Linked DNA regions of Homo sapiens: regions 2 and 3 are each reported to be linked to region 1. Evidence: microRNA targets listed by miRTarBase, many of them from high-throughput screens and not tested one by one. Region 1 holds a microRNA gene; each other region holds the end of a gene's coding sequence. Distances are from middle to middle.
Evidence for each region. Region 1 holds the annotated microRNA hsa-miR-216b-5p (AAAUCUCUGCAGGCAAAUGUGA, at 2,355-2,376, shown strand). A microRNA usually pairs through its seed, bases 2 to 8, with sites in the 3' UTR of a target mRNA and lowers its output. Matches are read on the target gene's strand: a 7mer-m8 pairs with bases 2 to 8, a 7mer-A1 pairs with bases 2 to 7 and ends in A, and an 8mer does both.

Region 1 (4,249 bases):
TCACTATGGTGGGGGATGTCGTTAGCAGGGGAGATTGTACATGGATGGGGATAGGGTATATAGGAACTCTCTATACTTTCCACTCAATTTTGCGTGAATCTAAAACTGCCCTAAAAAATAAAGTTTACTAATTTTTTTCTTAAAAAAGAGACTTCTCCAGTCCACATCTTGTAAGTTCAGGTTCAGGAGGTAGGTCTTGGTTGGGGCTTGGAAATCTGTCTTCTCCATAAATCCAAAATGTTTCTGATATACAGCCAGCGTTGAGAATCACTGGGTAGATCTTGACCTCTGATCTTTTAAGATGTAACTGTACTGTTCAATTTTTTTTTCAGGTCTTTACTGTCTGCTAGAAATAATCTTATAAATTCATCTGTACTAATGTTGGTGGCAGATAATGCTTAGATATTAAAAATTTGCATTTATAGAAGGGTCTTTTTCTACCTAAGTACTTAAACTAACAAGAGCCCCATATTATAGGCTGGCAGCCTCTAAACAGCCTACTCATAGAGGCAACTAAAATGAGGATTCTGTCTCAAAGCTCTGTTCCATCCATGCCTTCCCATGGAGCAAAGGAACAAACAAGATATCAACAATTGGAGAAATGGCAACTATAATTCCATCATTCACAACTTCAGTTTTCCTTCAAGAGAACAAGTGACACTGTTAATCAGGCCCTGCAAGCACAAATAAACAAAAATAATAATTTGAGAAAAGAAAATGAATGATGGCCTAAGAAGTCTAGTGTTTCTTCCACAACCAAGGTATAGTAGTCTCATCCTTTGGAGCTTTAGATGAACAGACTGAGGATCATAGAGTTTCTAACACAGCCCCTTCTTTCTATGCAACCCAGAATGATGTAGTTCTCTATTTTTAAAAGCAGCAAAAAGGATGGAAGTGTTCTCCCTTGAAGCCCAGATGTTTTCTATCTTTCTAAGCTGCAATTATTTCAACACATTATTTTAGCTACACTTACATCAGATCAGAGCCACCTGTTATATCCTCTGCACACTTATGAGAGATTTACTGTTAAGTTTCTATTTATGGTTTATTTAGGAAAGTCAGAATGCAATTGAGAGGACGCTTTTAAAGTCATCTTGAGGTCCAAGGATGTGTGTATAGCAGATTAACAGATAATCAAGACACTGTGTTGTGTAGTGTAAACATAATCAACCCTAATTTTGTGATTCATTATTACATAAATTTGGACGTAACCCGGACTAAAAAACTCATCATCTGAAATTCAACTACATGCCTGAAAAACATAATATAACATTGTTATACTTTAAGGAAGTTATTAATCTACTCCTAAACCAAGTATTACAAAAAATTGTATTATAATGCATTTTATTGTAGGAGGATTCTTTATTACCAAGATTTACATATTTAAATATTCTCTCATTTTATCTTGTCTGAAATTAAATGTCACTGTAATATCAATAAAATATGTGAATATATATATATATATTTCCTTTCTAATGGTAAACAAGTATTTGCAAAAAACATCCTAAGTAATAGCCAATCATTAATAAATGTTTACTGAGCACCTCCTATAGGCCAGGAATTATTCCATGTGCTGGGATATAGAAGAGAACAAAATATATGAAGTCCCTGTTCTAGGAAAATGTTGGAATAAATTTATAGTTGACATTGACCCAAAACCCGACATTGTAGTGTTAATAATATCACAATATTCACAAGTTAGATTTTTGAGCTCTAAAGTAAATATTGCATATCATGCATTATTCCAGCACTTTAAAGATTAGCAGCAGGTGATGGTATTATCATAAGACCATTATTAGGCAGAAGAAAGATGGAGAGAATAAAAGTAAAAAGCACATCTCCTCATTCTACTCATCTAATCTTGTTATTACTTAGGCATAACTAAATTACAAAAGACTAAGAAACTCAACTGCAAAGTCTAACGTTAGATAAAATTGCTTGAAATGCAAGGATATTTACCTGGATTGACCATAAGGCTTTTGGTGTGACTAACACACTGGTAAAATAAGCACATATGAAACAAACAGCATAATTTGAGAAAAAAAAATGAATGATGGCATAAGAAGCCTCGTCTTTCTTCCATGACCAAGGTATACTAGTCTCATCCACTGGTTGTGGCTTGGGAAACTTCACTTTTCATCTTTTCCTTCATTCTCTATGGAGATGTGTGGCAAAATTAGAGAGTATCCATTCTCATTTATGCACCTATCTGAATCCCAGCTATAACTCCTACTTCCCATCAATTTTAATCTTGAATAAATATAGTTTTAAAATTTAGCAAGACCAGAAAGATCACTGTAGAATGACGACAACTTTTTTCTATCTTAAGTACAACTTCAAAGTGGCAGACTGGAAAATCTCTGCAGGCAAATGTGATGTCACTGAGGAAATCACACACTTACCCGTAGAGATTCTACAGTCTGACATCTTCAAGCATCGAACCATTTCATCAACTATGCTTTTGTTATAAGCAGTTCTTTGGCCTGGAATAAATCTAGCATGGCCAAAAAGCCAAGCTATAGCCCACTTACTGAACTTTAACTTCTTCTAAACCAAGGTGACTACATGCCTCGTGATGGTTGAATCCCACTAAATTAAATTTTAAAATAAGAAGGTTGTTTGTAACATGGCTTAAAGCAGTTGTTGTCAAAGTTTGATTCCCAGACTAGCATCAGCAGCGTCACCTAGGAACCTGTTAGAAATGCAAATTCTTGCACCCCACTAGAGGCCTCCTGAATCAGAAACTCAGAATGGGCCCTGCAATCTGTGTTTCAACAAGCTTTCCAGGTAATTCCGATTCATGCTCAAGTTTGAGAACCACTGGCTTAGAGAGAGCAAAAGATTATAACTGGAACACTAAAATAATCAGACAAAATAATATGTATTCATAAAAATATTGTCTAGAATACATTTCTAAAGTAGTGGTCTTAATAAGTATAAGCATTAATAATAATGGAAAGAAACATTTTCATTTAACTCTTACTTTGCCAATAGAATTGCTCAGATGTACTTATTTCCTTAGAAATAAGGAGTTAAGAAATCTTATTTAAGAGGAGAAAACGTTTTCATGTTTGGGAGGATTAAAAGGGTACTGACATCATTCAAGTCATGAGCCATAATTCTTATTAGATTTTATTGCTACATTCTTCGCACAGCTTTGGAAAGTTATTCCTAAGAGCACAAAATATGCACTTAGACTGCACACAGAGAAGGAAAATGCTCTCACAATGAAATTATTTTAGTCTGGCCCAGTAATATTTGAAAGACTCAAGATTTGTTCTCTCTGAAACATATCCTGTCAAAATAAGAGATGTTTGTTTAAATTTATAGTTTTCAACATCCTTTATAATTTTCCCTCCTAAGTTTAATTTGTCTGTAAGCAATCCAATTTCTATATACTAAAAAAATTATTTTCCCTTCTCCTCTAATATAATAAAAATGTCATGACTAAAAGGTAAAACAAAAAATAAAAAGTATTAAAAATTATTATTGAAATTGGTCTTCAATGACAATGAATAAAAGCCATAATTTGATTTTTATATATTTATAATAATGTTATGTATCTGTTAGTATCTGAAACATTGGTATGCCTGTTAATCAATAACTTCTGGTAGCATGTTAAAAATTCATCTTCAGTTTCATTCTTAGTGAATTCATTTGGATTATTTCTGGACCACACCAATTTCCCATGATGTGATGGAAAAAATTGTAACATTCAAAAATTGAATTAGATCACACACAAAATGTCAACTCACTCAGATTATAATAATAAGGTTTGGCTTGTTCATTGAAAAGTGGAGCCCAACTATGTCTAGAGTCTGTAAACTCAGTGCTGGAGATCAACAAGATGTTTTAGACACTTCACCACTTCAGGTGACCTGAAAGAAATACATTTCCTTAGATGAGGATAAGAAGGCTCTCCAAATATCAGGTTTCTTTGCTTTCATTGGATTTAATTCAACTCAATATTGATGCAATTGCTAATCAGAAGCTCCAACTAACAGTCTAAAATGCCTTTGATAGTAACAAAAGAAAAAAATTATTAACCATATATGCAATTTGTTACACAAAATATTTCAAAACATGAGGTTTCATTAAAGGAAACAATAAAAACATTGCTAGGAATTTAGCATCCTCCCAGGCAGTAGGAGTGTTTTAAGTATTTGATAACAACGACCAATAGTCACTATTGCATGAAGCACTCTACACATATTATTTAACTTAGTTTTCTCACAAACCCAGTGAAGAA
Region 2 (4,249 bases), not on the chromosome of region 1:
AAATCCAATTCTGTATTCAAAAAATATTAAGAGCTGATCAATGATTTATTTTCATACCTCATTACAGTAAGAAAAAGCCCTCTGAAATTTATATTTGAAAGCAAACTGGGACAAAAATCTGCTTTATCTATGAACTTCCCACTAGAAAATACAAGCATACCATTATTAGAGAACATAAGACATCAAAAGCCTTATGTTTTAAAACCATACTGAAATCATTTACCAAATAACAAAGATCTTAATCTAAAAGATAGTGAATACATCATCATCATGAAATCTGGTTTTATGTGCTCTATGAAGTACTTGGAGAATTGCTTTTTTATTTTTCTTTTGCTTTATTAGGTCACACAAAACAGAATGAATTAGCAGAAAAATGTATGTTATAAAACAGCATTTACTACTTCAATTTAATTTTTTTTACTAACAATTGTGGACCTTTTTGATGACACTTATGTATGTTTTTAATAAATTATGTACTTATTAGTACTTAATGAGCCCTTCCTGCCTCAATATAAAATTACTAAACTTGGAGAATTACAGATTTTATTGTAGGCCCTGATGTTAGTCACTTTGGAGAAGCTAAAAATTTGGCCAAAATGAATGATCCAATGATCCTTTAAGTTATCTTTATATTTAATATAGTGTGATCCTGGACTACACTGATTTAAAACATGCTTTTTGAAAAATGTCTTAGTAATTGGGCAGTAATCTTCAGTGTGTTTCAAACACTACTTGCACCAAAATCACGTAGGTTGTTGGGTATTGGTTCTCAAACTAGGATAAGAAAGACACCTGCAGAGTTTGCTTAAACACAACTGCTAGCCCCTGCCCCTGCCCCTGCCCCTAGAGTATCTGATTTAGTAGATCTGATCTGAGATGAGGCCCCGAGAGAGGCTGCATTTCCAACAAGTTCCCAGGTGACGTTAATGCTGTTTGTTGGGACCAGACTTTTGACAGTCACTGCCCAAGGTATCTGGTAAGAATGCATACTCTTGGGCCCCATGCTTAAATTTGAATTTCTGAGATTGGGGTCTTCAGATCTGCATTTAACAACATCCTGGGCAAGTGTGAGAACCACAGTTTAAGAATCACTGTGACAATTTGGCTGGGTTAATTTGACTATTACTGGCCAATGCATCAGACGTCATATATCATATACATAAAAATGGAAATAATGCTACATGAATAGCCCCAAGCCTGATACGGTTCCAATGAACACACAGGGTTTTGAATATAAATCCTACCTCTGTTACTTACTAGCTTTGTGACAGTGACAAAGTTACTTTGTCTCTGAGCCTCAGTTTCCTTATCTATAATAGGGGTATAACACCCAAATTTTGAGGATTAACACTATTATACACAGATTATCTAAGCACAGTACCTAGCATACAGTTGGCATTGGATAAATACTAGCTATTACTTATTTCCTTCAGTATCTGGTCAAAGCAAATTTTTCATTCACTTAAATGCAGTACTTACACTCCAAGGTAACAGAATAATAATACAATCTTCTATTTATTGCTCCCTATCAATGTTCTAAAAACCTTACATTTATTTAATCCTCATAAAAATCCTGTGAGGTAGGTAGTATTATCATCCCTAATTAAAAGATGAGGAAATTGAGACACAGAGAGATTAAAATTGCTCAAGGTTACAAAAACAGTAAGTGTTAGAGCAAGAATTTAAACCCAAGCAAGTCTGACTCTAGAGCCCAGGATTCATCACAATATTCATTTCCTATGAGCAAATCTCAAGGTTTTTGGATATCTATAGTAAACCATTTATACTTCTAGTCAAGTAACACATATGAAAATTCATGTCCACACCATGGTGAAGAGTTGTTCAAAGAATAAAATGAATGCCTTGAAATTTTGGCAGATGATACTACCATGATAATAGGTAAAAACTGGTGCATGTTTTCACTACGTGGACAGAGTAGTCCATGGTTAACCAATGAAATGAACATCCTCTCAAATATACCATTCAAAGAGGTCATGATTTTGACATGTTTTGGCACAATAAATAGAAATTACTTAGCCGGGTGCTGTGACTCACGCTCGTAATCCCAGCACTTTGGGATGCCAAGGTGGGTGGATCACCTGAGGTCAGGAGTTCAAGACCAGCCTGGCCAACACGGCAAAACCCTGTCTCTACTAAAAATATGAAAACTGGCGGGGCGTGGCAGCGCGTGCCTGTAATCCCCGCTACTCGGGAGGCTGAGGCAGGAGAATCGCACCACTGCAGTCCAGCCTGGGAGACAGAGTGAGACAGTCTCCGAAAAAAGAAATTACTTAGCTAAATAGCAGAGTCAGTGGCATGACTGCCATGTAAAATTGGCATAATGATAAACATGAGGGAAATGTAAATACTTTGTACCATAAAAATAATCTCATAGAAAGTCTGTAAAATATTCTGCTATGACACTCAGTACTGCTAAAGATAATAAAAATAAAAAATTTCTTTCCTTTCAGAAACTCTTTAAACAGAGTCACTAAAAATAGAATGAAACATTTGTGAATGTTTTTGATGACAGTCTTGACTAGGTATTCTGCATTGTTAGAATTATCCATTAGCAAAACAATTATCCCAAAATAGCACCAACCTTCAGACTGTTATTTATAAATTAAGTATCTACTCTTTCAAAATATAACATTTTTGTTTAAGCACTCTACATTTTCTATTGTTTTTAATTCTCATCAAAATCTTGCTTTCTAAATAATCTTGCCACTGTAACTAATAGCCACCTCAGATCCTATAAACTAATTTTAAAACTCTGCTTTAAACAAGTTATGAAAGGCACAAACAAGTTCTCATCCCAACAGGATGAGAATGAAATAAACCATAACTATGTAGTTGGAAAGAGTTTAAAATATCAATTTAAAATGTCACTTAGTAATTCCTGAGAGTGGCACTGTTATAAGAAAAGCATCCTGAAACAGCATTAAATTTATTATTAGTTACCCATAATGAACAATGGGCAAATTTGGGAACAAATATGTAAAATACATGTTTACAGAATGCTATGAACGGTTTGAGTAAATTAATGTTAATAGTGGAGAATGGTATTCAAGAGTGGCTAAACACATTTAGAAAAGAGACAACAGAGATTGCGTAAAAGATGACTAATTAGAATCAAGTATATAATATAGTCAAGGCCCATGATAATTTTAAAGTGTGGTTTTATTAATGCACTTCAGGGTAAGTGCCAGTCTTATTTTAGCTTCTTCTGGAAGAAATACTACCAATTATAAATAATCACAGCAACATTTTCATTAGACAAAAACTGTGTGTGTGGGTGTGGTAGGGGGGTATCATTTATAGCATACTGCAAATATAAACTCAATTCTTGAGCTATATTAACAACACTGAGCAACAATATTTCTTTCTAAAATTTTCTTTTCTTTAAGGCAGATCTGTTTATTACTAACATGGTGCAGTGTAGTTTTAGTAAATTTACTATTTTAGTTTCTCAGTGACAATAACACAGATGGTCAGAAAACAGGCAACAAAATCTCTTTTCTAGTTCCTCTACCTGGCCACCATTTAAAAAACACAAGTTCCTCATATATATAGACATATTTATATATTACTGTATCAAAACACATTTTAACACACTTCACAGCTCATTTAAAGCTTCAGTTTATAGTCATTCATGTGAAAGGTTTCTATAAGGAATGTTCACTTAGAATTCCTCACTGGGATTCCAGTGTTCTATGTCAGAAATGCAGAAGTCCTTTTTCAGTGCAGTGCTAGACATATTACCTTTGTTCATTCATGATTTTCTTTCAAGGATTTCCTAACTTCACTTTTGTATCTTCATTTTTGTTTGCTTGACTAATTTCCTTTAGTATACGTTCAGGTAAGGTAGGTTGATATCTGTATAAATAACCATATGGACGAAGATGATAAACGAGGTATTCTAACTCATACATGGTTGTAGAATCAACATAGTGAAAAGAAACTGCAAGATCAGAGCAGCAACCAGGACCCTAAAAAAGTAGTGGAAACAGGTATTGTTAATAAACAGCACATTGCTAGCTACAATATTTACATACTTATAAAGGACCAGCTAATTTTAAAAGAATACAAACATTAAAGATGGCAAGGTAAAGCAGAGGAACCTAATGTACTAGACCTGTGGAAGAAATCAATAGTTTACTTAGACATCCTAATGATTTAAAACCAATTGAAATTGGTGAAACCAAGTGAAACTGTGGAAAGTATTTTTAAATGAAACAATATTCTCTCA
Region 3 (4,246 bases), 170 Mb from region 1:
ATAAGGTAAGTCATGTCACATTTTACTGAAGGGTCTTCTCAGTCGGATCTCTCAAATCTCATTTCTGAAATTTCTGTTTATAGAAAAAACAAAAATCTATTTTTGGAGGGGTGTGATAAGCCCATTTTGAAAGCTTATCAATTGGCTTTCTGGCAATAATTGTAACAAGAGAATGTGGGTATACAAATATGTTGAATATTAAAATATTCTGAAATAGGAAATGGTTTATACTTGTAACCGTCTTGCTGATGAAGACCTTATATGCAGAGCTGAACACCTAATGCCTAATGATGTTTATGGAATTGTCATTGAAAAAAATGAATTGGCAGTAATGTGTTCAACTCTGTGCTAGGCATTAGGCATACAAAAACGAGTCAAGCATGGTCCCTGCCCTCAAGGGGCTTGCATTTTGGCAATGGAATGAAGGAAGTGCACTGAGACATTAAAGAAGCAATGGGGAACGGAGAAAATGAGGACAGCCCCGTGCACTGCACAAGAGCAGCAGAAGGGAGCCTAAGTTTCCCCCAGGGAATTCACCTCCCACGCAGGGTAAACTGACCCCAGGGAGGACATCACTGGTGAAGCAGGAGCAAAGTCGAAGAGGTGCTGGGAGTGTCTGCAGAGCTGCACACAGTTCATCATGACAGGAAATACTCCTAGAGGGAACCCTCGAACAGTCCCCACTGGACCTTTCACCCCATAGGAAGTCATTTGGACTTCATGGGCAGCGGAGTCACAGAAGGATTCTAATCCAGAGGGTGACAAAATCAAGTTTGGGTGGATCTTAGATGGCAACTGGGATTTGAAACTAAGGCACCAACTGGGAGATGCCTACTGCAAGGGTGGAGGTGGAAAACAAAGGCTGTGTGAGACGGGCACGGGGCTAAAGAGGAGGTAGCCATCCAAAGCAGCGATGACTCAGCTTTCAATGTGGGGAGTGTGAGAGCAGAACGAAAGGGCCACTCATAGCATGGAAACCTGCCTGGATGAATGGGCTCCACTCACTGAGAATCAGAACCCAGAAGGAAGCATCCCAGATTTCCAGCACGGGCACAGAACAGAACAGTTCCCATTAGGGCAATCTAGGCACGTTCCAGTCTACAAGGTTGGTGGGGAGGCAGGGAGAGAAGGGTTTGATAAGGATCATCTCCAATAATGGGTTAGGAGAACAACTTAAAAGCTTTGTTCATCACCTCCACAGAGAAAGGGTAATTGAAGGCACATTGATATATAACCAGGTGAAGAAAATAATGGTTTAAGGTAACAGGATCTTCTATTCCAAGAAGTTATTTTTCCGCCCTTTTGATCCTTTAAAATACTTTTGTAAAATTAGAGGGCAGTGTTAATGCTGCATTTAGAGACAGCTCTTGTAATACTAACATTTTGAACAGTCTGATACCTTCCCAAGCTCACTGTGGAGTAAACTGTCTACATAATTTAGCCTGTCTTTGTGTGGGTTTTTTTTTTTTACTTATTTATTAACTTATGAAGATAATATTCTAATACCAACATTAAAGTGTTTAAAATAATTAGCAAGCAAGATACGTTTCTGATGTTCCATTTGTCACCCTTACCTCTTCCCAGAAAATGTTCTCAGGCCAAGTTCAAGATGAACAGGTTGAACTTTTAGGAGGGTTGACTTTTGGTAATAGATAAAGCTTTTTGGGAAGGAGAAAGGTAATCACAAATAAGATTGAAATTGGCTTAAGTTTTAGGTGCACAAAAATATTCAACATGCCAGAGCATGGTTTAAAAAATATCAAATGGGTCAAATGAACTAGGAAATATTCTGCTACATCAAGAAAATATTTCATCTTAAAATACACATTTTTCTTTTTACCAGAAAATACTCTTAAAATAAATTGCCACCCTGGGGGCAGCCCATAGCAAAACTCATTTGAAATGTGTTCTGCATATAAGAGCTCATTACAAATCAAGGTTTGGCAAGGAAAACATTTCTTATAAACAAAATTTTAATTGAGTTTTTCTTCTCAATTATTTTTAAGTGCACGGAAACAAAGCACTAAAATGAGTGTCACGCTCATGAGAAATTTCTTTAGTTTTCTCTAAAATGCCTTTTTCTTTTAGATGAGGAAGGTGAGTTTCCTAAAAATTTTTTCCAACAAATCTTTTAAATTTAGGATTAGATCACCAAATTCCTAGCAAAACAGAAAAAGGGATCTTTTGCTTTACAGAAAAAAATAATCATTATAAATTGACACACATTCTAAACTTTTTTAGAAAATACTAATGCCAAATGTCAAACTGTTGCCTTGGTACAAGACTGATATGAAATATAAGAATGTCTTTAAAATTGGCAAAATGGGATGCTCCTGTAACAGCCAACCACGGGAGCATAAAATTCAAATTATAAATTGTCTTTGTTTCGTTTAAAGATAGTGCCATGTCCTCCTGATGGGGTAACCCTGACTTAAATGAATCTTCTTACCTAAGTTTAATTAAATCGGCCCTTAATTTTCTCCCAAGTGCATAATGATAGCTCTGTCACGTCCCTGTGTGAGCTGCCATTATGTGTGTGGAGCAAAGTGTCCGTTGTGAGTGCAAGAAGCTGTGCAGGCTCTCCTGGGGAGGGGAGTGAGATGCTTTGTATGAAGCGCGTGCCTGCCTGAGTGAGCCCCATGTAGCGTCAGTCCCATTAGCACGCACGCACCTGTGACACGCCGGACCCCGACTGGGGAAAAGCAGTCTGTCTGGAAGTTCACTGCAATGGGGAGTCAATTTTTGTGAATAACTACCTTAATATTCACTAATAGCTTTTAGGCTCCTAATCTCTTATTGAATATTTTTTTTCCATAATTGCTACTTTTCAAAAGGGTTGCCAAAGTAGGCATTTCTATTCTCTGAAAAATGCAGAAGAGAACATAATGTTTTATATTCATCTGTGATGTGTTTATGCTAATGTCGCATCTCTGGAATACGGCGACTGTGGGCCTTCCTGCCATCATGATTCATTCTCCTTTGAAAGGAACTGTTAACGCTGGCAGTGTGAATTTTTTTTTTTCTTCTTTAAAAAAAAATCTCTCTTTGCGTCATGGTTTTACCATTATTTAAAGTATATGGAAAAATAGATTACAGAGGAAATCATTTTGAAATGTTGAAAATCTCTGCTTTCTAGTTTCATTCATTGACCTGTTTATTTTTTCCTATAAAATCCATCCAGAAGCCCACTGTATTATAGAGTAATTGACTTCAATTGTTTGAGATACTGTTAACCCAAGAATGAAGTTTTCAGTAATGTAATTTGTAATCTGGCCTTTATCATCTACTTGCCTTTCTGAGAATTAGCATATTTTTAAGTAAAGCCAGTTCTTCGATCATCCTCAGTAAAATAAGAGTATCTAGGCTCCCTAGATTGGGAGGTCCAAACAAATCCATCTGTGCAGCATTTGCTTAATGTGTAAGGAACCAGAGGACTCTGGGAATAACCACGACAAAACAGAAGGAACCACTGAAAGGGAGTCCAAAATGAGCACCATGACATCTCTTAGCACAGTCTAGGAAGTCTTAGCCCCCTAGGAAGTTTCTCTTGGCCACGTGTTGGTGAATTTCGCATTCTCTAGCTATACTTCACGCAGACCTGGCACCGGCTGATTTTCTGGCGTTGGGCCTGGCTTTCTTTTAAGGTGTCTGGTGCTGGAGCAGAGGAAAACTGCAAGTCTGCTTTCACCGTTGTGAGCCAGAAGCTATACTTATTTGCGAAAAAGTGGCAAGTTCCCTGCCGGCCCTGGCATTCAAGGAATGGTGCTGCTCTGAAATCTTCCAGGCAGCTGCCAGGTGACATAAGGGCCTGCCCTCCTCCTTGGTCCCCAGCTCCTGTGTGCTACCCAGAAAACAAGAGAGAATTAGGGCTCAGACACACACAGACAACCCCAGACCCAATCAGGGACACACCCAGGTTTGGGTCTGATCTTAACATTTTTCCTTAGATTATTCCATAAAGAACAAAATACAAGCGCTGAAAAGGAGTCGTACTCAGCATGGTAAGTATGCACACAAATTGGCTCCAGTTTCACCGATGGCTGAAGCAAACTCATCTTCTAAATTCTACCAATGTGATCAAAATCAATCACAAGTGTTTTTAAAAGATAATGGCCCTGCATCCCAACAGGCTATGGTTTGCAACAGTCCCCGTAACCTTATGTCCTAAGCGCAGAGTGCTCAGAATTACTGTCCAATCCAGAGAGAAATGGCGGGAGAAGGTGTTAGGAAATGGTGAATGAGCCAG

Region 2: the mRNA of C1GALT1 is a reported target of hsa-miR-216b-5p. Seed matches in the 3' UTR shown: 7mer-m8 at 3,510-3,516 and 7mer-A1 at 2,385-2,391.
Region 3: miRTarBase lists COL4A4 as a target of hsa-miR-216b-5p. Seed matches in the 3' UTR shown: 7mer-m8 at 3,121-3,127, 7mer-m8 at 3,037-3,043 and 8mer at 2,787-2,794.

The regions. Positions count from the first base shown.
Region 1 is chr2:55,998,891-56,003,139 of GRCh38, reverse strand. It overlaps MIR216B (microRNA 216b), which reads left to right and starts at 2,345; the gene lies at 2,345-2,426. All of the region lies in intron 2 of MIR217HG (MIR217 host gene), which reads left to right. All of the region lies in intron 3 of LOC105374690 (a long non-coding RNA gene), which reads right to left.
Region 2 is chr7:7,243,264-7,247,512 of GRCh38, reverse strand. C1GALT1 (core 1 synthase, glycoprotein-N-acetylgalactosamine 3-beta-galactosyltransferase 1) reads right to left here. Exons shown (of 4, transcript NM_020156.5): 4 at 1-3,989. The coding sequence ends at 3,786. Among named protein-coding and RNA genes, the nearest start is that of LINC03016, 9.8 kb to the left of the region's middle.
Region 3 is chr2:227,003,748-227,007,993 of GRCh38, forward strand. COL4A4 (collagen type IV alpha 4 chain) reads right to left here. Exons shown (of 48, transcript NM_000092.5): 48 at 1-3,841. The coding sequence ends at 3,578. Among named protein-coding and RNA genes, the nearest start is that of COL4A4, 160 kb to the right of the region's middle.